Regions from separate parts of the Homo sapiens genome. Here region 2 is linked to region 1. Evidence: fine-mapped expression QTL. A gene starts in region 1. The other region holds a variant in brackets. All regions are shown on one strand. Distances are between the middles of the regions. Region 1 holds the start of PLIN2 (perilipin 2). Region 2 overlaps SAXO1 (stabilizer of axonemal microtubules 1).

Evidence for each region.
Region 2: its variant is fine-mapped to the expression of PLIN2 in blood mononuclear cells (TOPMed, PIP 0.97).

What each region holds. Positions count from the first base shown.
Region 1 is chr9:19,124,892-19,130,270 of GRCh38, reverse strand. It overlaps PLIN2 (perilipin 2), which reads left to right and starts at 2,779. Exons shown (of 8, transcript NM_001122.4): 1 at 2,779-2,852; 2 at 3,823-3,874; 3 at 3,962-4,157. The coding sequence starts at 3,845. RefSeq lists a silencer at 2,441-3,000 and enhancers at 2,513-3,022, 3,023-3,533.
Region 2 is chr9:18,927,796-18,933,174 of GRCh38, reverse strand. It overlaps SAXO1 (stabilizer of axonemal microtubules 1), which reads left to right. Exons shown (of 4, transcript NM_153707.4): 4 at 4,120-5,379. The coding sequence ends at 5,123. Among named protein-coding and RNA genes, the nearest start is that of SAXO1, 100 kb to the left of the region's middle. The variant C/T (reference allele first, on the strand shown) is at 2,301.

The sequences.
Region 1 (5,379 bases):
AGCCTCTCTCACACACACACACACACACACACACACACACACACACACACACACACACACCAAACAGCTTCGTAGGACTACTTCCGCCTGCAGGTCCTCTGAACAGCCATATCTCAAAATATGTGAAAGAAGTATATTTTGGGGTAAAATTTTTTGGTTTCCTTCACTACACATCTCACCTTGGGTGTTATTCTTGCCACTGGTTTCATGTTCTCAGACTCACGAAGCTGAAAAACAGTTGGGGATGCAGAATTTGATGTGCTTCATCCTTTGTGGGCTTGAAGAGTCTCTTGTTCCCAAAATTATTCCCTGGGGCCCTCTGCTTCACAGGCAAATAAAAGCAAAAAGAAGCTTGCTCAGCCTTAAGTGAGGAAATGACTCACAGGTTTAAAACAAAAAAGGAAAAGATGGAGGCATTTTGTAGGTGAAAGGGCGAGAGTCTTCTGATGCAAAGTAAGAGGTCATTAGAGCAGGGATGGATTATCAATAAGCAGAGCAAACATTTGCTTAGGGAACAAACAGCGCCGGAACACGAAAAAGAAAAGAAAAACATAATAATTTAATTACTTAAAACACTGAAGATGGCAACATAGGAAAAAACCCAAACCAGAACATTTTTGGACTTCATAACATTTTATGGTTCAGTATTTATGGCTTAGTATTTTATTTTGAATTACATGTGGGGAGGAGGGGTAAAAATACTTTAATTTTTCTTGCTAAGTAAGTACTATTATATATTCAGGTATAATGGGATAAGGGATACCATTTTAATGGGTCCGTTTGGAGCTTTAAATATGATCAACAGTATCTGTGTGCATGCAAGATTGGTTAAGAAACTGGGTTAGACCGAGTGCGGTGGCTCACGCCTGTAATCCCAGCACTTTGGGAGGCCAAGGCGGGCGGATCACGAGGTCAAGCGATCGAGACCATCCTGGCCAACATGGTGAAACCCCGTCTCTACTAAAAATACAAAAATTAGCTGGGCGTGGTGGCCCGCGCTTGTAGTCCCAGCTACTCGGGAGGCTGAGGCAAGAGAATCACTTGAACCCGGGAGGCTGGGGTTGCAGTGAGCCAAGATCGCGCCACTGCACTCCAGCCTGGCGACAGAGCGAGACTCCGTCTCAAAAAACAACAACAACAACAACAACAACAGAAAATGAAAACAAATTGGGGTAAAAGTCTCTGAGAGCTTCCTACAGTTACAACTCCAAAGCTTCACAAAGCCAGTCCCTCCTGGCTGGAGCCAGGGACTCCAACGCTGTGGGCCTCTCAGGGGGCGGACCCGCGGCGCCAGCGCCTGCTCCCTTCCCACCTCCCAACCCTCCTCTCTGCTGTATCCTCCCTGCGAGCTGTGTCGGGGGCCGGGGGGGGGGAGTGGGGGCCGAGGCCGGACAGCTTCATCTGGAAATCCCCCGCCACTCACGGGGGAAGAAGTCCCACGAGCCCTATCTGGCCTCGGGCGCTGGCGCAACTTGTCTGCTCAAATAATCTCGTTCCAAATCTGTGCGTTTTACACAAGAAACAAACAAACAAAACAACAACAACAAAAAAACACAACTGGGACTCAGATGACGTTTTAAGTTGTCTTTGAAAAACAATGCATAACCCTGCACGTATAAAGTTGCCTATGTCACATAACCCTAGGCAGCTGTCATTCTGGAGTGATCTGGAGTTAAGTTTTTTGTTTTCTTTTTCTTTTTTCTTTTCTTTTTTTTTTTTTAGACAGGGTCTCAGTCACTCAGGCTGGGGTGCAGTGGTACAGTGGCGCGATCTCGACTCATTGCAGCCTCGACCACCTGGGCTCAAAAGATTCTTTCACCTCAGCCACCCACCCGCCTGCCCCCAACCCCGCTAAACAGCCGGGACTAGCTGGGACTACAGGCGCGCGCCACCACGCTGGGCTGCTTTCTTTGTATTTTGAGAGAGACGGGGTTTCGCCATGTTGGCCAGGCTGGTGATTCGCTCGCCTCGGCCTCCCAAAGTGCTAGGATTACAGGCGTGAGCCACCGCGCCCAGCCGCCACAAAACTTTTAAAAGTTATTACTTCGCTAAAAATAACAGCGTAGAAGCCATTGTGCAGCGCCACGCGATCTCGGCTCACTGCAGCCTCGACCTCCCAGGCTCAAGCGATCCTCCCATCTTAGCCTCGCAGGTAGCTGGGGCCACAGGCGCACGACACCACGCTGGGCTATTTTTTAAAATAAAATAAAAATCTTCGCCAGGCTGGTCTCGAACTCCTAGGCTCGACAGATCCTCTCGCCTCAGCATCCCAAAGTGTTGTGATTACAGGCGTGAGCCACCGCTTCCATTTTTAGAGTTCTATTCTGAGGACTAACGCCGTTCAACAAGTTGGTGTGAATTTGTTTGCATTTTTCAAAACCCCAAAGCCGGCCTGGGCGCCATCCCCATTTGCCCCGGGCCTCTCAGGACCCCGACCACAGGCAGGACCCCGACCACAGGCAGCGCCCCGACTCCAGGCAGCGCCCCGACTCCAGGCAGGGCTACCTCCAACTCCCAGCCTCCCCAGGCCGGGCCCCCGCCCGGCTCCCGACAGGCTCCTCTCCCCGTGGCGGGGCCCCTCGCCCAGGCAGCACACCCTCTCAACCCGACCGGGCCCCCACCACTCTAGGAGGGCCGGCGTTGGGGGAGGGCGCCGGGACGTGCCCGAGGGTGACACTCGGGCTTGGGACAGGGCGTGCTGCCGCGGGTCACGTGCTGCGGAGGCTTGGGGAGGGGCGGCGAGGCGGGGTTTATAGCCCGGGCGCCCGCGGGCCCCACGCTTTGACCGGGTCGTGGCAGCCGGAGTCGTCTTCGGGACGCGCCTGCTCTTCGCCTTTCGCTGCAGTCCGTCGGTGAGTGCGCGCCCAGTGGGTGCCCCAGCGAACCGGTCCCGGGCCCCCAGCGGCGCCCAGTTGGGGTGGGGGGCTCCCCGGGGCCTTGGGACCGCTGCTCTGCTCCCCGCGGGGCTCAAAGGTGGACGGGACGCGGGGGTGATGGTCCGAGACCCCCCGCTCGCCTCGCGGCTTCCAGGTCCTGGCTGGGTAGGGGCGGTCTGCTGAACCCGCGCTTTCGACCCTTGCCTTTGTGCGTTGAGGCTTCTTTCCTGCCAACAGATTTAGGGCGATTGCTATCGAATGTCCCTTGGCCTGCTTGGGTGGTTGTGGGAAAACAATATTTGTCGAAGGGACATTATCGAAAGGGAAACGCGTTAGAAAACCGCATTTTTTTTTTGACGGAGTCTCGCTCTGTCGCCCAGGCTGGAGTGCAGTGACGCCATCTAGGCTCACTGCAACCTCCGCCTCCCGGGTTCAAGCGATTCTCCTGCCTCAGCCTCCAGAGCAGCTGGGATAACAGGCGCCCGCCACCACGCCCGGCTAATTTTTGTATTTTTAGAAGAGACGGGGTTTCACCACGTTGGTCAGGCTGGTCTTGAACTCCTGACATCAAGCAGTCCACCCCCCTCGGCCTCCCAAAGTGCTGGGATTACAGGCGTGAGCCACCGCGTCCGGCTTGGCTAGCATTTTTGTTAACAGATACTCGGAGAAACAAGAGAAGTATGTCAACAACTTTACTTCTCCCTCCTGAGTATTGCAAGTTTACACATAAGCTCTGAAACTTTGCCTCAAAAGAGGGAGTGGGGTTGTGTGGGTGTGGGTCTTTCAGGAGGGGGACCTGGAGAGCTGGAGAGAGGAAAGAAGTGCAGAAGACTACAGGGAGCTCACCCTGCATTTTTCTCTACTTGTAATCAGCATTTGCTTGGGTTGGGGAATGAATTTGGGAGAGTCTTATCCCGGTGTTCTGAAATAAGTCTCTTTTCTGCAGATTTCTTTCTCCAGGAAGAAAAATGGCATCCGTTGCAGTTGATCCACAACCGGTATGAATTTTGAGTAGCCTTTGTCTACTTTCTCTCCTTTTGTGTTTTGAGAGATTAATAAGCATACCCTCCCTACTTTGATTGCAGAGTGTGGTGACTCGGGTGGTCAACCTGCCCTTGGTGAGCTCCACGTATGACCTCATGTCCTCAGCCTATCTCAGTACAAAGGACCAGTATCCCTACCTGAAGTCTGTGTGTGAGATGGCAGAGAACGGTGTGAAGACCATCACCTCCGTGGCCATGACCAGTGCTCTGCCCATCATCCAGAAGCTAGAGCCGCAAAGTGAGTTCTGATTTTTCAAGATGCAAGTCAAGGGACTGGTCAGTGGCGAGCCCCTGAGCTCACAGCAGTAACATCTGGAACTCCTCAGCCCTTCCTGGGGCATACACTGCCTTTACCTAGAAACTTTCAGGTGACCCTCATTACCGTAAGAGGACTGTTTCTTTTCTTTTCTTTCCTTTTTTTTTTTTTTTGAGATGGAGTCTCACTCTATCACTCAGGCTGGAGTTCAGTGGCGCAGTCTTGGCTCACTGCAACCTCTGCCTGCTGGGTTCAAGTGATTCTCCTGCCTCAGCCTCCCGAGTAGCTGGGACTACAGGCTCCCACCACCATGCCCAGCTAATTTTTGTATTTTTAGTAGAGACGCGGTTTCACAATATTGGCCAGGCTTAACTCCTGACTTTGTGATCCACCCACCTCTGCCTCCCAAAGTGCTGGGATTACAGGCGTGAGCCACCGCGCCTGTCCACAGAAGGCCTGTTTCATAGCTTTGGCAGATGTTTATGATCCTTTAATTAAAAATCCCCCAGAGGATGGGCACGGTGGCCTGCACCTGTAATCCTAGCACTTTGGGAGGTCTAGATGGGAGGATCGCTTGAGGCCTGGAATTTGAGACTGCTCACTGCAGTCTCTGCCTCTCGGGCTCAGGTGATTGTCCTGCCTCAGCTCCCTGAGTAGTTGGGATTACAGGCATACACCACCATGCCCAGCTAATTTTGTATTTTTAGTAGAGACAGGGTTTTGCCATGTTGGCCAGGCTGGTCAGGAACTCCTGACCCCAGGTGATCCGCCCGCCTCGGCCTCCCAAAGTGCTAGGACTACAGGTGTGAGCCACCATGCCTGGCCATGAATGAGTTTTAGAAATGGATAGTGGTGATGGTTGTATAATGTTGTAAATGGACTTAATGCCACTGAATTGCACAGTTAAAAATGGTTGAAATGGTGAAATTTGTTATGTATATTTTACCGAAATAAAGAATAGAAATGTCATACTCCATGAGAAATCTCATACTCTCATACTTAGTAGTCACTCCCCATTTCCTAACAACCACCCTGAGGCAGCTACTCATCTACTTTGTCTTTATAGATTTGCCTATGCTGGATATTTCTTATAAATGAAATCATAAAATGTGTGGGTTTTTTTGTGATTGGCTTCTTTCGTTAAGCATAATGTTTTCAAAGTTAATCTGTCTTGTCACATCATATCAGTACTTCATCTCTTTTT
Region 2 (5,379 bases), 200 kb after region 1:
CAAAAAAAATCTGTACTTCTAAAACATCATACTTAATGTGAAAGACTAAATGGCTTCCCCCTAAGATTGAGAACAAGGCTAGGATGTCAGCTTTCACCACTTCCACTCAATATTGTATTGGAGGTTCTAGCTAGTGCAATAATGCAAGAAAAGCAAGCAGACAAGTAAATGTATCTAGGCTCAAAAGGAAAATGCGAAGCTGTCTTTATTCTCAGACAACATGATCCTGTATGCAGATAACACCAAGGAATCCAAAAAATTACCAGAACTAATACATGAGTTCAGCGAGATGTCAGTACTGAACAATATATAAAAATCAGTTGTTTCTGTATTCTAGCATGGACAATCAAAATGGAGTCAAGAAAACTGTTCTCTTTTTAATAGCCTCAAAATTAATAAAATCTTGGAATAAAATTTTAAAAAAGCAAGTGTAAGTCTTGCATGCTGAAAGCTACCAACGATTGCTGGGAGAAATTAAAATCTGAACAAAAATGATGGACATTCTGTGTTCATGGATTGGAAGGTTCAATACTATTAAGGTAAAGTTGTCCCAAATTGATCTGTAGATTCAATGCAATTCCTATCAAAATCTCAGAAGGCTCCTTTTCCTTTTTAGAACTTGGCAAAGTAATTTTAGGTTTTATATATGAAATCCAAATAAACCAGAATAGCTGAAAGTATTTTTGAAAAATAAGAACTAAGTTGTAAAACTTACACTTCCTGATTACAAAACTTTATTATAAAGCTACAGCAATTGAGACAGTTATACTGACACAAAGACAAGTATAATGACCAATGCAACTAAGTTGAGAGTACAGAAATAAGCCTTTATGTCTATTGTCGTTAACTTCTCACAAAGATGCCTAGGCACTTCAGTGTGGGAGAGGATAGTCTTTTTGATGAATGGTGCTGGGACAGTTGGATATCCACATGCAAAAAGACGAAGTTACCGCATCCAAACTCAAAAGAGTCAGAAACCTAAATGTAATAGCTAAAACTATAAATGTTTCAAAATAAAACATGGGAGAAAAATCTATGATATCTTGGGACAGGCAAAGAATTTAGACATGGCATCAAAAGCATGATTTATTAAAGATATAAATAGGACTTTATCGCAATTCAAAACCTTTGGGCACTTAGAAAGACACCATTAAGAAATGAAAAGAGTCAGGTGTCAGGTGGGTGTTTTGTTAAAATAATAAGAAAATGAAAAGAGAAGTGATAGACTTGGAAAAAAATTTGTAAATCACATACCTGGTGTAAGATTTGTATTTAGAACATGCAAAGAATTCTATAACTCAATAAGAAGACAATCTAATTTTAAAATGGGCAAAACATCTCAATATTTTACCAATGAAAGCACATGAAGAGCGGATAAGTGCATGCAGAGATACTCAACATCATTAGTCATTAGAGAAATGTAAATGACACTGCAAGATACTACTAAATACCCATTGGAATGTCTATAATAATTTAAAAACACAGATGATAACAAATATTGACAAGGATGTGGAGAAATGAGAATGTTTATACGTTGCTGGTGGGATGTAAAATGGCACATCTACTTCTCCACTTTGAGAACATTTGGCAGTATCTTTTTTAAAAAGCTAAAGATAGATTTTTCTATACAACCTAGCAATTTCACTTTATTATCTACCCAAGAGAAATGAAAATATATGTTCACACACAGACTTCTTCACAAAGGCTCATAGCAGAATTTCTTTATAATAGCCAAGGAGTAGAAACAACTCAAAATGTCCATCAATTGGTGAATGATAAACAAAATTTGGTATCATATAATATTATTCAACAATAAAAAGGTGAACTACTGATACAGGCTACATTATGGATGAACCTCAATTACATTACACTAAGTGAAAGAAGCCAGATGCAAAACGCTACATATTGGGTGATTCTATTTATATGAAATGTCCAAAAAATGCGCAGTTATAGAGACCAAGAGCAAATTAATGGTTGCCTGGGGCTGGAGATGGGAGTAAAGACTGACTACAAATGAAGATAATTGGTATTTTTGGCATGATGCAAATACTCTATAACTTGATTTTGGTGATGGATATACAACTCCATAAAAGTCACTAAATTGTGTACTTCAGATGGTACCTTTTATTATGCAAATTAGATTTCAATAAAACTGTTACAAATTGTGCCTGCGGACTCCACTAGTGTTGGTGTGTATACCCAAGGCTCCTGGGAAGCAGCTTTTTTTTCTAACCTTTCGTACAGCAGTAAGCAAGAGAATTCCCTATAGATTCAGAGGGCTCACTAGGGCTAATTTAAAT[C/T]TGGTAATTTATGGGCCTGATGGGGCAACCTAGGTCTTGGATGTTAGTCAAGTATTTTGAAAGAATGCCAGCAGTAGGCCGGGCGTGGTGGCTCACGCCTGTGATCCCAGCACTTTGGGAGGCCGAGGTGGGCGGATTACCTGAGGTCGGGAGTTCGAGACCAGCCTGACCAACACGGAGAAACACCGTCTCTACTAAAAATACAAAATTAGCCGGGTGCGGTGGCACATGCCTGTAATCCCAGCTACTAGGGAGGCTGAGGCAGGAGAATCGCTTGAACCTGGGAGGTGGAGGTTGCGGTGAGCTGAGATTGTGCCATTGCACTCCAGCCTGGGCAACAAGAGTGAAACTCCATCTCAAATAAAAAAAAAAAAGTTCCAGCAGTGCCAAGGCAGTTGAATCACATGGTTTGTCATCCCATTTTTCTCACCTAGACTTTCAGTCTTGGTGTGCTGGCCCTGATGGTCTGTGTGGCAAAGCCAGTTTCAAAGGCTTACAGTGCTGCCTGAAGACAGTATCTGGTCCTCAAGATGCATGGAGGCCATCTCTACTGCAGATTTCCTTGGGGTCCAGGCCTCCCATTATGTTGGCCATTCCAGCCCCACAGCAGAGGTTCCTCTGGAGATGGACATCTAGATTGGCCAGTTCTTCTCATTCTTCAAACATTCTGAAGTTCTTTTCCTCCTGAAAATCTTCCCTCTGATTATTTTTTTCTTTAACCTTTACTCCATCTGGAAATAAAATGCCCCTAAGTGTGATATGAGGTATCAGAAGAACATGGCTTTGGAGACAACAATACGGTTTAAATTCCAACTCACCTCACTAGCCATGTGACTTTTGGGCAAGTTTCTTAGCTCCTCTGAGCCTTGTATTTAGAAATCTGTAGAATGGAGAGAATCATACCCATCACAAAGGGTTATTGTGAAGATGAAACAAGATCATGTATGGAAAGACTTGAGCACAATTGACCGACATGTAGTTGGTATTCCCTAACTGTTAGAACCAGAGAGTAGAGTGGGTCAGATCGTGGGCTCTGGGTCTGAATTTGCATTTGTGCTTTTCCACTTCTAGCCAAGTGAGCTGGGACAAATTCCCTCATTTTCTGTATATCTGTTTCTGCATCTATAAAACTGGCATTAATAGTACCCACCTTATTAGGACAGTCTGAAGATTAAGTGAGTTAATATATACAGCACTTAGAATACTGCCTGTTATGTAATAAGTTTTATATAAGTGGCAGCCACTGTTCTCTCACCACCCAATACAATGCCCTATTCCCTTGGAGCAGCATATTTGATTTATGTGGATTACATGTGAGGATTACAGGGACACAGTGGGCTGTCACTCCACAGACGACCAGGTAGGCCTGGTTCATCTGGCTGGTGGCCCACCAGTGGTGGGTTGTGAATTTTCTATCTCACTACATCACATGCATCTTCTCACTCCTTCCATGCTGATTCAGAGAAAGTACCTTCTCCACAGAAGAAAGGAAGTGTTGTCAGAGTAAGCTAGTGGTTGAACTTTTCTGCAGGAATGGATTCCCTGGATCCTCTCACGACCATGGACCCTCTAAGATCCCTGCATGCAGTATTGTGGGGTGTGATGAGAGCTCCTGTAGATTTGTCTCTTCTGCCTGCAAGTACCATAAAGTTGACACATCAGGTGTTTGAATGAAGTGGTAGCAGGGATGTGCTCTGTTCTTTCTTTGTCTCAAAGAACACTTCATCGGAGACTGCCTTAAGACCTTGGGGCTCTGTAGAATATATGCAAGTTGGTTGACTTGATTTATTATTAATTACCTCTTCTGCTTTAATTTCAGCTGATTATTTGCCTTGGAACCAACCAAGGCGAGAGCCACTTCGTCTGGAACACAAATACCAGCCGGCATCAGTCAGGTTTGATAACAGAACCACACACCAGGACGATTACCCCATAAAAGGCCTTGTGAAGACCATAAGCTGTAAACCTCTGGCCATGCCAAAGCTCTGTAACATCCCCTTGGAGGATGTGACTAACTACAAGATGAGCTATGTGGCCCACCCCGTGGAGAAGCGCTTTGTGCATGAAGCAGAGAAGTTCAGGCCCTGTGAAATCCCCTTTGAAAGCCTTACCACTCAAAAACAATCCTACCGGGGCCTGATGGGGGAGCCTGCCAAGAGCTTGAAACCTCTAGCCAGGCCTCCTGGGCTAGACATGCCTTTCTGTAACACCACTGAGTTTCGAGATAAGTACCAAGCTTGGCCAATGCCCCGGATGTTCTCCAAAGCTCCCATCACCTACGTCCCTCCCGAAGACAGGATGGATCTTCTGACAACAGTGCAGGCCCATTACACATGCCCTAAGGGTGCCCCAGCTCAGTCCTGCCGACCTGCACTTCAGATTAAGAAGTGCGGTCGCTTTGAAGGCTCTTCCACCACCAAGGATGACTACAAGCAGTGGTCCAGCATGCGCACAGAGCCAGTCAAGCCCGTTCCCCAGCTGGACTTGCCCACCGAGCCCCTGGACTGCCTGACCACCACTCGGGCCCACTATGTGCCCCACCTGCCTATCAATACCAAAAGCTGTAAGCCTCATTGGTCTGGCCCTCGAGGAAATGTCCCTGTGGAAAGCCAGACCACCTACACCATCAGCTTTACTCCCAAGGAAATGGGCAGGTGCCTAGCTTCATATCCTGAGCCTCCTGGCTACACCTTTGAGGAAGTGGATGCTTTGGGTCACAGGATATACAAACCAGTTTCCCAGGCAGGCTCTCAGCAGAGCAGCCATCTTTCTGTAGATGATTCAGAAAACCCCAACCAGAGGGAGTTGGAAGTGTTAGCCTGATTTTGAAAAATAGTAATTTAGAAATTACACAGTACTTTTAAAAGCAGACAACTGAGAATTATTTGTTGGACAAAAAAGAATTCCCTAAAATGACAAAAAACAAAAAACAAAAAACCTTCACCACTTCCAGAGCACTTGAATAAAATGAGAATCACTTGACTCAGGGAAAATGACATTTAATCACCGGCTAATTAACTCCCCTTACCTTCTCCTTTACTGCATCCCCACCCCGTTTCAGGTCCTTTACTTTGTGCTT